2 separate regions of the Homo sapiens genome follow, and region 1 is linked to region 2. A link means that fine-mapping ties the variant in region 2 to the expression of a gene that starts in the linked region. Tissue or cell type: whole blood. Region 2 holds a variant in brackets; the other region holds the start of a gene. All regions are shown on one strand. Distances are between the middles of the regions.

Region 1 (8,000 bases), 100 kb after region 2:
ATATTAACATACTCTTTAAGGTTGATTACAGACTTTGACTTTATTTAGCAAACATTTAAACACTTACATTTAACATTAAGCACTTATGTTTAAACGCCTGAGCAAGGTGTTGGGGGCAAAATGATAGGATAGACACCACAGCCAGAGTTTACTATGACCAATTTATAATACAACATGATATAGACAATAATGAAGGAAAAATAGAGAACTATGATTGAGGAAAGGAATAATTCATTGTAATAGGACTTCCAAAGGACTCCAGAGAGAACAGAATATTTGATATGAACTTTTAAGAACTGGAGGGAGTGGGAGTGAGACAGGACATTCCAATAAGAGAAAAGAATATAAGCAAAGAAGGTCTGAAATAGCTTGGCATGTTCAGAGAACCAAGAGCAGTCTTGTTTAGCTGGACAGTGTGGAAAGGGGACAAAGAGGACAAGATAAAGTACAGAGATGACTGGGGGCCAGACTGCAAGGGGCCTGCATTGTGATGCTGGTATCTCTGAATTCTAAGCTCCAAACCACAGGCAGTCTTAGAAGCCTACTGAGCCAGAGACTGACAAGATCTGAGCTCAGGAAAGATGACTCTGGCAGCCAGGCAAAGAATGGATAGGAAGGGGTGGCGAGGAGCCTGAAGACAAAGTTAAAAACTTTAAGCAAAGCAAGTAATCTGAGGTTTTAACACTTACACTAGGCGAGTATTTTTAAAGGGTTTGAGTCTTGACGACATTTCACGTCTTCCCTCAAGTGATCATCCCAACTATTCTGTGAAACAGGTGTCATCAATCTTCCCATTCTACAGATGAGGAAATTAGCTCACAAGCCATTAACTGCCAAGTCAAATGCTACAAAAACAAGGACAAAGCGCAGGCTCAGCACTTTTCCACACAATGAAAAATAAAGAACAAGAACAATCTAATTTCTTTTGAAGAGTGCTACCGTACAACATAGCACAGAGTAGGCTAGCTACATTACCCTATATTACCACTGGAAGTGTTAAAAATCCATCTAATCAGCCAGGCGCGGTGGCTCACGCCTGTAATCCCAGCACTTTGGGAGGCTGAGGCAGGCGGATCACGAGGTCAGGAGAGAAAGACCATCCTGGCTAACACGGTGAAGCCCCATCTCTACTAAAAATGCAAAAAATTAGCCGGGGGTGGTGGCATGCACCTGTAGTCCCAGCTACTCGGGAGGTTGAGGCAGGAGACTCGCTTGTACCCGGCGGGCGGAGGTTGCAGTGAGTGAGCCGAGATCGCGGACTCCAGCCTGGGCGGCAGAGCGAGACTCCGTCTCAAAAAAAAAAAAAAAAAAAATTCATCTGATCTTCTTAAATGTTTGCAACTTGCATAACAAGCTAATTATCCTTAGATTTGACTTCTGTTAACGTCATGTTAAAGACCTATACTTTTTCTCCAAAGCAAACAAAAAAGCACCTGCACTTTGAATTCTACTTCCTATGGAAATAAATAAGAATAATATTCTCCCTTCCCTTCAATGTTTAAAAACTGGCATTTCACTGATGTAACGGGCTTACATAAAAACCATTATACCCAAGGAAGCTGTAAACCACTTTTTGAATGATTAAAAATGCATTATTTAGCAAGTACAGCAATTGAATCTGAGTTATAAGATATATTAAGTGAAAGGAGCTTCTATAGATATGCAAAGGCACACTCTCGGAAATAGGTTCTGTCATAAGGAAGCGACATAGAGATCCTGAGACCTATTTAAGAATGGTTCAATCCAAAATAACTGATGGAAGAATATTTGACCTTGAGGATGCAGAGTGATAGAATCCGCTCCTCCTCCCCCCCCGCCCTCACCCGCCTTTAAATTCTAAGTCCACGAAATGGTCAAAGTGTTCTGGAACGGGTCTTATTTTGCATAGGAAGAATCTAGCTTGGGCATTTTACCGCACAGTTTTATCCACAGCATCGCCTATTACCAAAACTGCTTGTCCCTACCCCCTCACGAGCTTTCTAACAGTTTTTAAAACAAGACCCAGAAATGTAAAATCCCTTCTTAGGAACTTGAACAGTAAGTCAAAGTATCCAACCCAGGTAATTATTAGCAAGAACTACATTTATATAATTTTTTCCAAAGAATCTCGCATGCCTCCTCTCCGCTGAATCTCCCTCCTGTTTTTAACTGGGTTAAATCTTTATAGCTTGCCTATAGAGGACAAAAACGGAAAGGTGGCAAAAAAGAAATCAAGACAGTTCTGCCATGATTTAGGGGTCTGTACCAAGAGTTCGGCAGGTCCTGTCACCTGCGCACCACAAGACGCAAGCTGAATTCTAGGGCAAGACGAAGCATTCCAACACGACACACACTGGTTTCTCCAGCGGGAAGAAGCAGAGAGCTCTAGAAATGCCGGCTGCAGACGCGTATTGTTGGAAAGGAGCCGGATCAGGCCCCGCAGCAACTCGGGGCGCCCTCGCGACAGGGTTTGCCGCGCAGCGCACGGATGACTGTGGGCCTGTCACTCCTAGCTCCAGCTGTAACCTTCGCCAAACCTTGCGCCGCACCGGCCCCGCCCGCCAGGCCCGCCCCCCGCGCCGCGCCCCGCGCCATAGGCCGGCGCGCCAGTCGCTCAGCCGGCCTCCCGGCCCCGCCCGCCTGCGGCCCTCCTCCCCCGCCCGGCGGTTTTCCCTTCCCGGGGCCCCAAAAGGACAATGCTGGAGGGGAGGGGAACGGAGGGAACGCGAGCGAGCGGCCCAGGCTGCCGGCCTGACCCCGCTGCCGGGGACGCCGGGCGCCTCCCACCGGCCGAAGCCTTCCTCCCGCGCCCACTTTCGGGGCTCTACGTCCTATCAAGTCTAAGCACCCCCGCCTCGTCTCCCCTAGAAGAGCCGCCCCGGCGCGGCGACACCTGCCCCAGGCAGGAGGCAGCCAACGGCAACCCATTGTGCGGACTCATCGTCCACAGCCCACCCGGGCGCAAGAGCCGCAAGCTGGTGTCCCGGCGTCCTGGGGTCGGGGCGGGGGTCCCAGGGCCCACAGCTCACCCGCACGCCCGGGCACCACCAGGATCGGGGCCGGTCAGGCCTCCCTCGGCTGGCCCCGGAGCCATCAACAGCGGCCCGGTCTCCCTTAGGCTGGCCCCGGAGCCATCAGCGGCGGCCCGGCCTCCCTCAGGCTGGCCCCGGAGCCCCCGGCGGCGGCCCGGTCTCCCTCAGGCTGGCCCCGGAGCCCTCGGCGGCGGCTCGGCCTCCCTTAGGCTGGCCCCAGAGCCCACGGCGGCGGCCCTGTCTCCCTTGGGCTGACCCCGAAGCCTTCGGCTGCGGCCCGGCCTCCCTCGGGCTGGCCCCGGAGCCCCACGGCGGCGAGCGTCCGGCCTCCCCGGCCCGCGCCCACCCGGCCGAGGGGCTGCTCCGCGCCCTCCCTCCCCGCCGCCTGCCCGCAGTACCTGCCGAGGCTGCCGGGCGGCGCGGCGGCCGGCGGGGGCGCCTCTCCTCTGGCTCCGAGGGGCTGCGGGCGGCTGCCGAGCGCCGGGCGGCCCTGGCCTGCGCCTTACGTAAAGCGGCGGCGGCGGCCCCAGCGCCACTCCGCGGAGGGCGGGAGGCGGCGCGCCGGGAGCCGCTCCGCTCCGTTACCCGGCAACTGGCCTCAGCGCCCCGCCAACCAGGGGCGCGCTCCATATCCTTCCGCCCGGGTGCCGGGATTACATCAGCGCCGGCCGGTCCCCGCCCCTGCCCCTCCCTCCGGCTGGGCTGCGGGCGCGCGCGGGCGGTGGGCCGCGGGCTGACGGCGCGAGGGGACAGGCCGGGGCTGGTGCCTGGCGGGTGGGGGTCTAGGGCCCGGGACGCGCCGTGCAGCTTGGCCGGGGCGGCGGAAGCCGCTGGGAGGTGAGAGGGCAAGCAGTAGAGAGGGCAGGCAGGAAGCGGGAGCCCCCCAGCGTGCTGGGCGTCGGAGAGGAGACGTCTCCCGCGGAGGGGCACGTGGGACTGCCCTCGGCAGAAGCCCCCGAACTCTGCCGCCGCGCCCCGCCCCCGGCCCGCGCTGGGGAAGTGGGGCTCGGCGTGCACGGCCCCGCCCGCGGCCCGGTGCAGCCCCCGCCTTCCCGGGCTCGCGCGCCACCTGTCCGCGCCCCCTCCTCGCCGCGTCCTGGGATGGCTGGAGTAGGCGGCTTAAAATAAAGACTTTAATTTTTTGTTGTTGTTGTTAAGGAACCCAGAAGACAAGCTAAAGAAATGTGACATGGCTCTTTTTTTATTAACTAGGCAAAAATAAATTCTGGAAGCTTCGAAAGTGGAAACCAAAAATGTGCATTAACCTTTTAATCAAAGTGTCTTCACAGCCACCTACCTTCCCTAAATGTGACTCCTAGGCCTGTTCTAAAAAAGCAAATAAGTATCATGGACCTGGAAAAGGAAGGGAGATTACTTAGAAGAAAGAGGTCCAATGGGAGGAGTGACTTACCTGGGGTCATTTGTTCATTTATGCAGCACCCACTAGGTGCCAGGCACTATGCTTTTCTGTTCAGAACCTGTTGGAGAATTTCCTGCACCAGCTCACGGGCTTGTGGGAGAAGCAGATGCTGAAACACTGGAGAGGGGTCATCTGCTGAGTTGGCTAGATGCTCCATGCATCCATGGAAGGACAAACCGAGGAACTGTCGCTTACGTACTATCTACAGAGTGTTTTTTCTGCGAACATATCTTTTTGTTCTTTACAAAAATCGTGGGACAAATCTTTGTCATCCGCATTTAACTGGTGAGGAAGCTGAGGCTGAAAGAAAGTGATTTCACCCAAGCCTGGCTGCTACCGAGTGGACAGGGCCTTCTGACCTTGCTAAACCACCTCTTGCAGGAGACAGAATGTGAACCCAGGCTCCTGGCTCTGAAATATGGGGTTTCGTTTCCTTTACACTACTGTCTCCCTTAACCAGTTTGCTTCTAATTGTATTCTCTGAGCATTCGCTCAGGTGAATGTATATCGTCATAAATCACACGTTCATTCAGTCAGTTTCTTCTGAGTGCTTGTTGTGGACCTGGCTCAGTGCCGGGAACGCACAGTCCCTGTGCTCCTGGAACTCAAACTCTAAAAACAGTGTCGAGAATGGAAAGGGTATGGGAAATCCAGGGCCACTTGGGAGTAGAGGAGGGGAGAGTAGCAGAGCTTCAGAGCCTAGTTCACAGGTGCCTCCAGGCTCCAGGATTTCACAGACCAAAGTATGGGGGATTTGCAAAGGATGGTCAGCTTTTGATTTTTGCTACATTGGTGACATATCTGTCATCTACATCATATTTTACAAAAGAGTATTAACAGCAAAATTTTTTGAAAAGTAATAACAGTATATCTCAGTTCTGAAGAAAGGAAACACGGTTGGCACCTGTATAGTGACACACACACACACACACACACACACAGAGTTTATTGACCTTTTTTTTTATTACTTTGCCACAGACCAGTTTTTATACTAGTTCTACCATGAACTAGTAGAACCTGAAGACTTCTTGGAAGAAGAGGTTTTTAAGTAGGAATTATCTTGTATTAATAGGATTTGGAGCTGGTGGGGAAAGATGACAGATTAGGGAAAGAAAGTGTCTTGTTTACTTTGTTTTCTTAACAAAATAGCCTCCTGTCCTCCAAATTATTTTGATAAAAATCCTAGGAGTCTCAGCTGACTCCAACCTTAGGGCCTTTGCATCTGCTGATTTCTGTGAGGAACTCCCTCCCCAGACCTCTGCGTGGCTGGTTCCTTCTTGTTAAAGGCCCTGCTACGATGTCACCTGCCCAGAGACATCTAGATGCCCAGTTTGGAGTAGCCAACCTTCCCAGTCATGATGCCACTGCTATATTTTGTTTCTTTATTCACAGCTCTTATCAGTATCTGAGATCATCTCGTTTGTATGTTTGTTTCCTCATTCATCTCAGCCTCCTCACTCAAGACCTGTATCTCACAAGAGCAGGCATTTTGCCTGTGGTGCTTATTTTCATATGCCCAGAGCCCAGCACGGAGCCTGCCAGTTTGTAGGTGCAGGACTGAACTATCATCTGTGATGTAGTCAGAGTGCACATCAGGGAGAAAACAATCCCACCTTCCCTTGAGCAATCAGGAACAGGGCTCTTCTGCATGAGCCCCTTACCCCCTGTAGTGTGCCACGCTGCCTACGACCTTCCTTCAGGCTCCCGGGTAGAGATCAGCCAACTTAAACTCAGGAGAACAGTAGCTTTCTCCCTCTTGTGGGCTAAGATCCCTAGGGAATGCAAATGAGGCCAGAGGACTCCTGCGTTAAGGCAGGGTTGGTGTGGAGGCGGTAGACTCCCCCTTCAGCATTTTCTGAGAAGAAACCATTGTCTCCTGTGTATGTCTGAGATCATTCATTTCATTTCTCTAGTCTCAGGAGCACCTGCCACAGCTTTTTAACCCCTACAGCCGGGTAAGGCAATGCTGGAGGAAGCTGACGACTCTGAGTGCCCTCTGACTTGGATGTTCGATGCTAGCGAGGATTCTAGCAGCTGCCATCTGGGGCAGTGATTGTGTAATGTGTATGCTTAGTGAACAGCAGGGATGAGGCTGGGTCCGGGATGCTTTGTGATGTCGTGTGGCACACGGACTGACGGCAGGCAGGGGCCAGGCCTCTTCGACTCTGTGATCTTGGGTACATAATCTCCCTCTCTGGGCCTCAGTTTCCCCATCTGCACAACAAGGGACTTGGGCAGGAAGATTTCAAAAATCTCCTTTGTTCTGTGCCTGTGTGTGTGTGTGTGTGTGTGAGAGAGAGAGATTTAGAAACAAAATTTCAATGAAGCTACACTTTGATAAATGATATACAAATCCTCACCTGTCACCTGACACGAGCAATGCCAGCTCCTGTTTACTGACCCCCAGGTGCATGCCAAGTGCTTTGCTCACATTGTCCTTAACTCCCACAATACCAGGCAGGGAAGAGATGATCCCCATTTTGCAGCCACAGAAGCCAAGGCTTCTCTGGAGACTTAGGTGGCTTGCACAGGCCACACTGCTACTAAAAGGCAGCACCAGGATTTCATTTTAGCCCTGTGCTTGCTACTGGGCCACACAGTATCATTAAAATCCATCCTGAGATGACTTTTAAATGAATGAGGCCAAGATAAAACCCTGACCAGATAATCTCCCCATTGCCTCCCCATGGGACCAAGACCCTCACTTGGGATACTAACTAGGCATCTCAGTTCAGATGCTGTCAGTCAAGGTGGCCCACATCATGGCCTTCTCTCTTAACCACCCCAGGCCTGCACCCGCATTCTGACAGCCTCTCCTCTCAGTGGCTCTCCTCTCTTAGGGGTAGTAACATCATTCCAGGCCTAAAGAGAGTTCAAGCCTCTGGCATAGCCCCATGGTCTGACCTTGAGCAAGGCCCTGACCTTCTGAGGGTTTCGGCTTCCTAGTGCAGGAAAAGACAGAGGAATAACGCCTTGTTCCGCTTGCCTATCCCTGTAGGGCCAAACCAGATCAGAGGTGTGGTTGTCTCCTGCTTCCAAATTTGTTCCTCACTTCTATCCCTCCACCCAGTCCATGGAAAATCAACAACGTCATCAGCAATGTCACCAGAAGTAGGGGAGCACGGTGATTAAGCACACTGGCTGATTAGCTCACTGATGTGGGTAAATTACTTAGCCTCTCAGTTTCCTCATCTGTAAAGTGGGCATAATAATAATAGTATCTGCCTCAGAGGGTTGCGGTGAAGGGGTAAGTGAATCCACACAGAGGGTACCCGGCACACAGCAAACACTCAATAAATACCAGCACCCACGACCATCCCTCCTTGAAGCCCCCACTACTTAGCTCTGACTGCCCATCTCCAGGACCCCCTCTTCCTCTGTCCCTCCCATTCCCTCCTTTCTTATCCCTCCTTTCTTATACCTCCTTTCTTATCATTCTGCATACCACTAGGGCAGTCTCCTCCACTCCAGTAGCTGTTAAGTAACATGAAAATGGAAGGACACCTAATATCTCTCCCCTACCCCAGCTTTTCTCCAAGGCCCAGAACCGCCTCCTGGGCTTGTCCGCC
Region 2 (10,907 bases):
GTGATCCCTGAGGCGCCGCGACCTTGAGTCTGCGGTCGCAGCGCCCAGTCCGGGGTTCTCGCAGTGCCGCCTCCACTTCACTGAAGAGCGCTCCTGGCTTTGCGCACAAAGCGCGGGCAGCCTGTGGTGTCACCCTTGGGTCCCCAGCCTGCAGTCTCCTGGAGGACAGGCCTGTGCCCAGCCACATGCGCGGGTGAATCCTGAGCGCCCCAAGGGGGGTTCCCAGACTTTAGTTCCGCGGTGGCTTCCGGCTCCCGTCTTGAGGGTCTGAAGGTGTGGGACTTGGCCCCCTGGGAGTGGCGGCGGTAGCGGGGGCACAGCGCTGGTTTGTGGAGGCCACGGTAGTGGGAAAGCAGCACTGCACTTGGGAATCAGATGAGCCATCGGCAGACCCCGGCTCACACCTCTGCCGGGTGCTCCTGGGCCAGAACTTTGGGTTCTCAGCCTCGGTGACAGACACCCTGAGACTGCTGGGAAAGACGCAGAGATGATGGGCCGTAGGTAGATCTGCTCTACCCATAGCAGCTCGGTCAGAGCAGGGTAGACCCGAGGGCTCCAGGAACTCGTGGAGCGGGGACTGACCTGTCTCCCTGCCCAGTCCCAGGACTCACGTCTTCCTCCTCCCTCTAGGGCCCCGGGCAGGAGGGACAGCACTGCTGGTGCCCACTGTGAGGGCTGGGAGGGACCACGTGGGGACGGCAAGAAACCCTCAGGAGGGAGCCTGTATTCTATTCAGGGAAATGAGCGGACACTTTGCCTGCCAGTTCTCCTCCCCTAGCCCTGGGAGGGAGAAGGGTCCCCATCTCACAGTTGAGAGAGCCACTGGCTCAGGGTCACAGCTCACGAGGAGGGGGCTCTTCCTATCACCCCTCCTCAGGGGCAACATCCCCACACAAACTCACACATCAGGGGCTCCTGGCCTTAGCGCTGCTGAGGACCAGCATTTCGTGTGCTCCTCAGCCTCAAAATGTAGCCTCACCTGGAAGGGGAGGGTCACTGTCCCCACCTGTGACAGGGCCAGAGGGTGGGGTCCTCCCCACCCCTGGACTGTGATAGGAAGTGGGAGACCGTGTGCCTGCCCCCTCGCTGCAAGGCCAGGGCCCTCCCCACCATCCTCCCCAACGGACGTGGTGGCCAGAGCCCTCGGCCCCAGTGGGCACACTTGGCTCTGCTGCTGCCCTGGCCCCTGCCCTCTGGTTCAGCCACCACTGGGAGCCAAGGACAGCCAAAGGAGTTGGTCTCCTGTGTCGAAGGGATAGCGTGACCTCCCTTCAGGGCGAGATCATGGTGACAGCACTGTGGTCAGCACTCAAGGATGAATGGCCTCTGTGGGGCTGACCCCTGCTGACCCCCGCTGACTAGGCAGGCCTGGAGCTGCAGATCCAACAAGGGCCCTTAAAGGGCTCTGCTAGCACAGGGGGGAGGGCAGGGAGTGAGAGACCGCCTGCAAAGAGGCAACTGTCTCCTTAGTTACTGGACTCAGTGCTGCAACTTCTCTTTTGCATTTCCGTTTTTGCTTTTTTTGAGTCCAGTGTGAAAGGAAAATAAAAACGTGGGACCGTAATTCACTGTGCTAAAAGGAAATACTTAAGATGAGAATAGACTCATGCAAGAAGCTGCGTTTCCTTATGTTCTTAAGCAGATAGCTACAGCGAAAGGGCCAGACAGGCCAGGCACGGTGGCTTCACGACTGTAATCCCAGCACTTTGAAAGGCCGAGGTGGAAGCATTGCTTGAGCCCAAGAATTCACGGCCAGCCTGGGCAGCATGGTGAAACCTCTGTCTACAAAAAATACAAAAATTAGCTGGGTGTGGTGGCGCACACCTGTGGTTCCAGCTACTCGGGAGGCTGAGGCTGCAGTGAGCCAAGATCGAGATCACGCCACTGCACTCCATCCTGGGTAAGCGTGAGATCCTGTCCAAAAAACAAAACAAAACAAAAAGGCCAGCTATCTCCACAGGTAGCTACTCTGTGTTCACTGTATCTTACGTAAAGTGAGGATTTAGTGCGTACAAGTCAAATACCTAATTGACTACTCCCCTACCTGCTCCTTTTCTCTCGCAACCTGTGGATTCAGTCGTGTGACCACACCCTCCCCCTTCCCCCTCCAGCCCACTTTTCCCCTTTAAATACAGAAGCTCTCAAAATCATCTTTGGAGAAAGGCACAGACCTCTCTCTCTCAGGTGTGTCCTGAGTCTTGGCAAAATACACTTCTAAATTAATTGAGGTCTGTCTCAGGTACTTTTTAGTTTGCACTCTAGTATTTATGCAGATGGACTATTTTATGTTTATAACCAACCCTTAGGAGAGAGGTCCAGTTATGATCTCCATTTACATCTAAAGATACCAACGTGTGAGACTGAGTAACTCGCCCAAGGACACACAGCCGGGGCTGACACAGCAGGACTCCCTGCAAGTACGCAGACAATACATAACTTTTTTTTTTGAGACGGAGTCTTGCTGTCACCCAGGCTGGAGTGCAGTGGCGCGATCTCAGATCACCACAACCTCTGCCTCCCGGGTTCAAGTGATTCTCCTGCCTCAGCCTCCGGAGTAGCTGGGATTACAGGCGCCTGTCATTATGCCTGGCTAATTTTTGTAGTTTTAGTAGAGACGGGGTTTCACCATGTTGGCCAGGTTGGTCTCGGAACTCCTGACCTCAGGTGATCCGCCCACCTTGGCCTCCCAAAGTGCTGGGTTAACAGGCATGAGCCACCGTGCCCAGAGACAATACGTAACTTAATGAGTGGGATTTTGTGAGATGGAGGTTTCAGTGTTAAATGGACTCTGCAGTCAGTGCCCAAGGTGAATTCGGGCTCCAGCATCCACCAAGTGTGAGACTGCAAGTGCCTAATGCCCCATTGTGCCTCAGTTTACTCATCTGTAAAACAGAGCAGCTGTAGCTCCCTCATAGGGTTGCTAGTTAACACTCAAGAGCGCTTAGAATGCGTGGCAGCCAGTAAGCCCTCAGTGTCAGCTGTTGACTATGACTAGCACAGACAATAGCAACGCCAACCAAACGTTAGGTGGCAGCATCATTACCAGCTTGATAATTGAGGCAACCGTCCCTGAACATGCTATTAATTAACCACACCAGTGGCACAAGGCTAGCAGCGGGCTCTGAAACGACAGCTCATTTCCTAATCTCTGCGTTCACAACAGTGGCCAGCTTGTGACGCCATCCGACTGGCTGCTTTCAAGAGGAACCAGGGGCAGGGGCTTCCTTTCTGTTCCTGGACTGCTGGTAGATGCAGGCCTCCTGGGCACTGCCACAGCCACTCATGGCCAGAGTGGCATCTGTAGTGGCAGCAGCAGCAGGCACACAGGGCAGTGGCCAGAGCACTTTCAGTGAAAAAGGCAGAAGCCTTTACACTCCACCCCGGGCTGTTCTAAAAATACTTAGCTGTGGTGTCAGAATTCCTGGCCCGAGAGGGGAGGACTGCCTGAGCTCCGGGAGGTGGAGGCTGCAGTGAACCGAGATGACATCACTGCACTCCTGCAAATCGGTGGGGTAAGGACTTTAAAAATGGTGTTGGGGGGTGGGCCAACTACATCCTTTAGGGCCTGTGCTATTGCCAGGTGCAATGGCTCAGGCCTGTAATCCCAGCACTTTGGGAGGCTGAGGTGAGGAGGATGGATTGAGGCCAAGTAATTGAGACCAGCCTGGGCAACCCTGTTCCTACAAAAAATTAAAAAATGAGCTGGGCATGGTGAGGTGTGCTTATAGTCCCAGCTATTAGGGAGGCTGAGGCAGGAGGATCACTAGGCCCAGGAGTTTGAGATGACAGTGATCATGCCACTGCACTCCAGCCTAGGTGACACAGTGAGACTGTCTCCAAAAAGGAGCTATGCACAGATTTCAAAAATTTTTTGCACCAAAATAAACTTGTACTAACTTGTTATAACATGTCTTAAGATCTACTTTGAGGCACTAAGAAGGGTATGACTGTTTGAAAAGAGCACCTATCAGAGCAACATGAATTCTGCTAAAAATGGAAGCAAGGACATCAAATTTATGGTGATGCTTGGGTGGAAGAATGGTGAGATCAGTGATTTTTTTTTTTTTTTTTCCTGAGACAGAGTCTCGCTCTGTTGCCCAGGCTGGAGTGCAGTGGCGTGATCTCGGCTCACTGCAGCTTCCGCCTCTCAGGTTCAAGCAATTCTCTTGCCTCAGCCTCCTGAGTAGCTGGGACTACAGGCACATGCCACCACGCCTGGCTAATTTTTTTGTATTTTTAATAAAGACAGGGTTTCACCATGTTGGCCAGGATGGTCTCGATCTCCTGACCTCGTGATCCACCCACCTCAGCCTCCCAAAGTGCTAGGAATACAAGCGTGAGCCACCACACCTGGCCCAAAATCAATGATTTTTTTACAAAAAAGCTTATGGGGACAATGCCCCGCCCCCAGCCAAAATCAGAGGTTTGCCAATGGGTAACTTGTTTTAAGAAGGGATGAGACAATGGTGAAGACCTCCTCATCAATTTGTGAGGAAAAAATTAATCTTATTCATGCCTGAATCAAAGAGGACCAATGATTAACAGCAGAAACAACACCCAACACCACAGACACCTCAGATGGTTCAGCTTACACGATCTGACTGAAAAATTAACGTTGAGCAAACTTGCCACTCAATGGCTACCAAACCACTGCACTCAGATCAGCTGGAGACAGCAGCAGAGCTTTCAGGGGAAACTTTCAACAAGAGGAATCAACATCCTAAAGCATTTCCTCTGAGAACTGTAACAGGAGATGGAACATGGCTTTACCAGCACAATCCTGAAGACAATGTGATTGTGATCACAGCACTGGCTACCGAGAGGTGGGAGGGGTCTCCTCATAGCAAATGCAGACTGGTCAAAAGCAGAGGCCAGGCAACCATTTTCTGGGATGCTCAAAGCACTGTGTATGTGCTGACTTTCCAGATGCCCAAAGAATGTTAACATCTGCTTATGACGAGTGTTTTGAGAAAGTTAGCCAAAGCTGTGGCAGAACAATGCCTAGGAAAGTTTCACCAGAGCCCTTTTCCACCATGACAGTGCTCCTCCTGCTCATTCCTCTCAGCAAACGAGAGCCATTTTCCAAGAGTTTTGATGGGAAATCATCAGGCATCCACTTTGCAGTCCTGATTGGGCTTCTTCTGACTTTTTGTTTCCTAATCTTAAAAAGCTGTAAAGGGCACCCATTTCTCTTCAGTTCACAATGCAGAGACTACACTGACAAGGTGAAATTTCCAGGAGCCTCAGTTCTTTAGGGATAGACTGAATGGTTGGTATTATGTCTTATAGTAGTATCTTGAACTTGATGGAACTTATGTTGAGAAATAAAGTTTATATTTTTTTATTTTTCTTTTAATTCCATTTTCCATGAACTTTTAAAAGTCCCCTCATACATGTTTACAGATGTCCATAGAAACGTTATTCAGATACTGAATAAACAACCAAAAAAACATTGTTTTATCAATGAGGAACCTGTTAAATCTACATAATACAGCTATAAAAATAATTATGTAGTTCTATAATTACCGACATGAAGACATCTGAGTAAAAACCTATTTCTGATGTTATAGAAGAACAAGTATAGTACACTCTTGAATGTAAATTTCTCTGTGTATGCATTCATATATACTGTACATTCAGAATCCTGGAAAGGGGCTTGCACAGATGTTACCAGTGTATGTCTCAGAGTGACAGAAGGACATATGAGTTTTCCTTTTCCCTTATACTTCTTTAAAAACACACTGATTTTTTTTGCACAATGAATATCAATCATATTAACATATAAAGATTTAATTTTTTCCCCAGAAGAAAACAAAAAGATTGAGCTTTGTGTACCATCCACGGACAAAAATGCTATGTGTTTTGCAGACTCAGGTAGTAGTCCCTGCGTGTGCTGGGGGTGAGATGGGGAGGAGCCGCTGATTTCTCAGCAGGCCACACCACTTTCTTCCCTAGCAAAGCTGCACAATGTTTTCAGCAGTGTCTGCAATGAGAGCTAAATGACCTCCATCTAGAACAAATGTAACCTGGGCACTTGCTCTTCCACGGATGCTCATGAGTAAAAGGAAGCTGGAGTTCTTTACAAAAGAAGCTTTGCTATGAGAAATAAAAACAACAAACTGTTTTTTACAATTTTTATTTGGTGTTAACTCCACAAGAAAACAAACAAAAAAAAATCAGTTACTCTGGTGTACGTGAAATCAGAACAATACAACCACGGGAAAAACAATCTCAGCCCAGGAATGGAAACTGGTACTTCAGTGCTATGGAAATGCAATGCGCTTCATACCACAGTGCGTTTCAGCGTTTGCCAACTTTTTAAAAATGCTTTTTCTTTGTGATCATCCATTCACAAAACTAAAAAGCCACACTTTCATCTCTGTTGCTGAAAGCCTCTGAGCTTCAGCTACTTAACTATGAAAACAAATAAATACATAATTTGTGAATCCCTTTGCTCACTTCGAATCCGTCCCATTCACCTGTGGAAGGTGCTGCATCTTCTCACCTGTGTCTGAGGAAGTGTGCACCTTTGCCACCTGGAGCCCTTTCCTAATAAACAGCAGCTGTCCAAAATCAACTGTGCTCAAGGTTGTGTCTGAAATCTATTTATTTGGTCTTTGCTACACAAGCAACGATTTCTAGAATAATCGTCACTGTAGTGATATGAGGAATTTACAACTTTCAATCCTTTTTTACTTTTGCTGTTAAATTATATTTCAGTGCAGATGCTTATCAATTTTTAGGAAGCTCCAGAAGAATGAAAAATACATAAAAACGTATCTGAAGTTCGTAAATAAATAACAGCAACATAAAACCTTACACATGCGCGCGCGCACGCGCGCACACACACACACACACAC[ACACC/C]CACCCACCTTAAAGTGTCAAAAAATGTGTTGTATAAAAATAAACCCTAACACGTGGGAAGATCGACCCGGCGGGCACACCAGGTCCCTCTCGGTGAGGACACACAGACCCTCAATGACTCCACAGTCTTTGATGGTACTTTCTTTTCTGTGTTATCAATTAAGAAAAAGGCAACAAAACCCAAATGTTCAAAGCAAATCATAGATTTCACAGCCAGTTCAGCTCCCAGCTAATAAATTATATGTGTGTTTACTGCCTGCCCAAATGAGTGGTGAAGCTGTCTAGAGCGCATCAGACTTTTCTGCCATTCCTGATGCTCCAGGCATGCTACGCTGATTTCACAGATTAGGTTTTTTTTGTTTTTGTTTTTTAAACAATGAGTTGGTTAAAAAAGAAAAACAATGTAAAAAATGTAAAATGTTTCGGCTGTGCACATACTGCTCCTCCTGGCCTCTGCCTGTGGCACAATGCCATGAGAGCCGGAGGAGCGGATCGCCATGCACAGACGCGACTCACAAGATGCGCCGGCTCCCCGGGCTCACCAAGGAGAAACGGGAGCCAGTCCCACGGAGCGACAGTCAGCAAAACCACCACACAGGGATGTGGAAAACTCATGACTCTACCCGCCCCAACCCACCACACACAGAACTTGCCCAGAACATTCTCTCAAACACAAAATGAGATCGAAGCTATACTACATCACAGCCAAGAAGCGGCTAGCTGCAGCAGCCAAAGATTTCTCTGGGTGATGAGGTGGCCTTTACTGCATGTCAAATGTTCACAATTTCAAGTTTTGGGGGTTTCAATTCAACATAGGTCACCAGAAAGTAACAATCTGTAACTAAGGTCCTTAGCACGTATGGAACACTCACCACAAAGAACCCTGCATGGGGTTTTGGTGTAAATGTAACTGCAGTATGAGAGCAGGTAAGGGGTGGGGTATGCACCCTTACCCCACTGTGTCTCGCATACGACCCCACACCCCAAATCCTTGGCTTCTTCAGTTAGCAAGAAAGTCACGAACCATAGTATCTTCCGTGATACTTTAGGGGAAAAGAAATCCTAAGAGAGAAAACACAGTATTTGGTGAGTCTTGAAAAGCACACCTCTGCGGTTCCTACTGGAAATGTACATGAGATTTTGCTGAATGGAGACCACCGCTGAGTCACCCAGGCTTCCCTCTCGCCTTCAGAAAGGCATCAAGCCACTGTAGGGTAAGAATGGATATCCCAGTTCTTGGAGAACAAAGCCTAAATGCTCCAAAGCTGAAGTCTCTGAAGAGCAGAAGTGGTTGTTGACACTGCAATGCTAGTAAGGTCATAGTGATATAACCGCAGTCGGAAGGAAAATTAACTGCAGTTAAGATGCAAAAAGCAGTGATACTTCTAAGACAAGCACATGCACACCCATTCTTGATTTGACAACACAATCTAGTCTATTTCAAATAGCCAAGAATTTAACAGCTGGGAAAAAAAATCTTTAACAGGATAGCTGTCCTCAACTCTAAAATAAGCAAGAAGAGAAAGATAATTATTACCAATCTGAATCAGTTAATTGAAGAGGAAACCTAAGTTGTTGTTTTAGATTAACAGGTCTCACTGAAGAGTAATTTTCCATCACATATCATTTTTAAACAATAATTTGTACTATTTTGCAGGTTTAGAGATGAGTTCGAGAAAAGAGCTCCTCTTCACTAGGGCCCACCCACTCGCCTCCGCCTTCTGAGCCTGTCTCTTCCGAGGTGGAGCTGGCGCTGGAGCACATCTTTCCGCGGAAGCCATCTGACTTTGCTCCAGAATCTCTCTCTCCTGTACATCTTGCTTCATAAACAGAAGACACCTAAGATTAAAACAATTTTCAACACATCAAAAAGACTTTTTTTTCCCCAAAAGGGTGAGATACTCTATCTATATACAAAGAAGAAATAATAAATCATCAGTGTTTTCCTGTGGAGTTACAAACATGCAGAGTTTTACTGTTTCAGAGCAAAACCGCCTCTCTTCTCTGATCCATGAAGGATCCAAAATCCTAATTCCACATGTTCAGTCACTTGGACAAAATGTTAGCCATGTTAGGGTAGGATAAAGAATTATTTCATTTTCAAAGTCTTTGAGTACCTGCTATGCACCAGGAACTTTACTGGGCACAGGGACTCCAGCAGTGGAAGGCGCATGCCAGGCTCGCTGGGGAGATGAACGAGCAAACCAACATGTGCCAGTTGCAGTGACACAGTACCGATGGTGAGGGGGGCACTGCAGACGGGTGTGTTGGGAAGGGAGTTTGCAGTGACACAGTACAGATGGTGAGGCGACACTACAGACCTGTGTGTTGGGAAGGGAGTTTGCAGTGACACAGTACAGATGGTGAGGGGACACTGCAGACCTCTGTGTTGGGAAGGGAGTTTGCAGTGACACAGTACAGATGGTGAGGGGACACTGCAGACCTCTGTGTTGGGAAGGGAGTTTGCAGTGACACAGTACAGATGGTGAGGCGACACTACAGACCTGTGTGTTGGGAAGGGAGTTTGCAGTGACACAGTACAGATGGTGAGGGGACACTGCAGACCTCTGTGTTGGGAAGGGAGTTTGCAGTGACACAGTACAGATGGTGAGGCGACACTACAGACCTGTGTGTTGGGAAGGGAGTTTGCAGTGACACAGTACAGATGGTGAGGGGGCACTGCAGACGGGTGTGTTGGGAAGGGAGTTTGCAGTGACACAGTACAGATGGTGAGGGGACACTGCAGACCTGTGTGTTGGGAAGGGAGTTTGCAGTGACACAGTACAGATGGTGAGGGGGGGCACTGCAGATGGGTGTGTTGGGAAGGGAGTTCTTTGGAGAAGAGGCCCGCTCAGCTGAGAAGCCAGCCATGCAGAGGTGCCAACACTCTGTGGTGTCGGACTGTCTCCCCTACACCAGATGGTCAGCATCTCTGGACCCCAGGACATGAGATGCAGTGGTGGCCCCTCCTCAGTCACAGTCATTACAAAGCTCCCCTCACCCTGCCATAGTAACTAGCAGCACTCCCACCTCATTTCCAAATGGCAGCATTGCCCCTGGTTGAGAACCCCTGAGGCAGAAGCACAGAAAAGCCACACAGAGTAAGGGGAGAGCAGAGACAGATGAGGTCAAAGGCAGACGGGGGCAAAACATACAGGGCTGTAGAGGCGTGGCGGGGAGTTTGGATCTGTCTCAAATGCAACAGCAAAGTGACATCATGGTTAGCAGTATGGGTCCTAGAGGCAGACTGCTGAGGTTCAGAGTTCAGGTCCACACTGAAGCTGTGGCTCTCTGGCCTCGGATACACGGCGCCTGATGTTTTTGTGCTTCACTTTCCTATTTTGCAGAACAGGCATGACAACAGTACCTACCTCACAGGGTCGTTGTGAGGACTGAACAAGATACTGCTCGTGAGGTCATTCTGTCTGCTGTGTGGAGAGAAGGCTGGAAAGGATGACGAAAGCAGGAAGGACAATGAAAAGACCATGGCAGCTGTTCAGGAGCAGGGACAGTGGCTTGAACAAAGTGGTAATGATGGAGAGGAGGAGAAGTGGGAGATGCGAAGTGGCTGACAGCGGGGAACGGTCAGGACTGGCAGGCAGACTGTGTGTGGAAGATGAGAGAGAGGACTGGGGAATATGTCTCAGTTTGGGGTTTGAGGCTGGAGGGATGATGTGAACTAGTCACTGAGGAGAGAGCTGGTGGGGGCCTCAAACATCTGCCTTCATGTGTGGAGCCGGACAGGTCAGTGGGCAGCAGGACGTGGACGATGATGCTACAGGTGCTTGGGCAGACAGTTCTCACAGGACTTGAATGGACACTGACAGATGGTTAATACTGAGTGTCAACTTGATCACATGCCGTGTGATTCAAGTTAACGGGAAACTACAACAGCCCAGTCCAGACAGGATACAAATGGCTCAGACTCTTTAGGAATGAAGGTTTAGGTCACTCCACCGGGAAAAAACCACAACCTGCTGAGGTGCTTGCTGAAGGCAAAGGGAATACAGAATGGGTAGTAGAAGAAGGTAGTCATCAATACC

Evidence for each region. PIP is the estimated chance that this variant, and not a neighbour inherited with it, causes the effect.
Region 1: it holds the start of KIAA0232, and the variant in region 2 is fine-mapped to the expression of KIAA0232 in whole blood (INTERVAL, PIP above 0.99).

Annotation. Positions count from the first base shown.
Region 1 is chr4:6,778,251-6,786,250 of GRCh38, reverse strand. It overlaps KIAA0232, which reads right to left and starts at 3,524. Exons shown (of 10, transcript NM_014743.3): 1 at 3,410-3,524. RefSeq lists silencers at 2,435-3,204, 3,265-4,144.
Region 2 is chr4:6,878,583-6,889,489 of GRCh38, reverse strand. KIAA0232 reads right to left here. Exons shown (of 10, transcript NM_014743.3): 10 at 5,326-8,703. The coding sequence ends at 8,524. Among named protein-coding and RNA genes, the nearest start is that of TBC1D14, 26 kb to the left of the region's middle. The variant ACACC/C (reference allele first, on the strand shown) is at 6,861.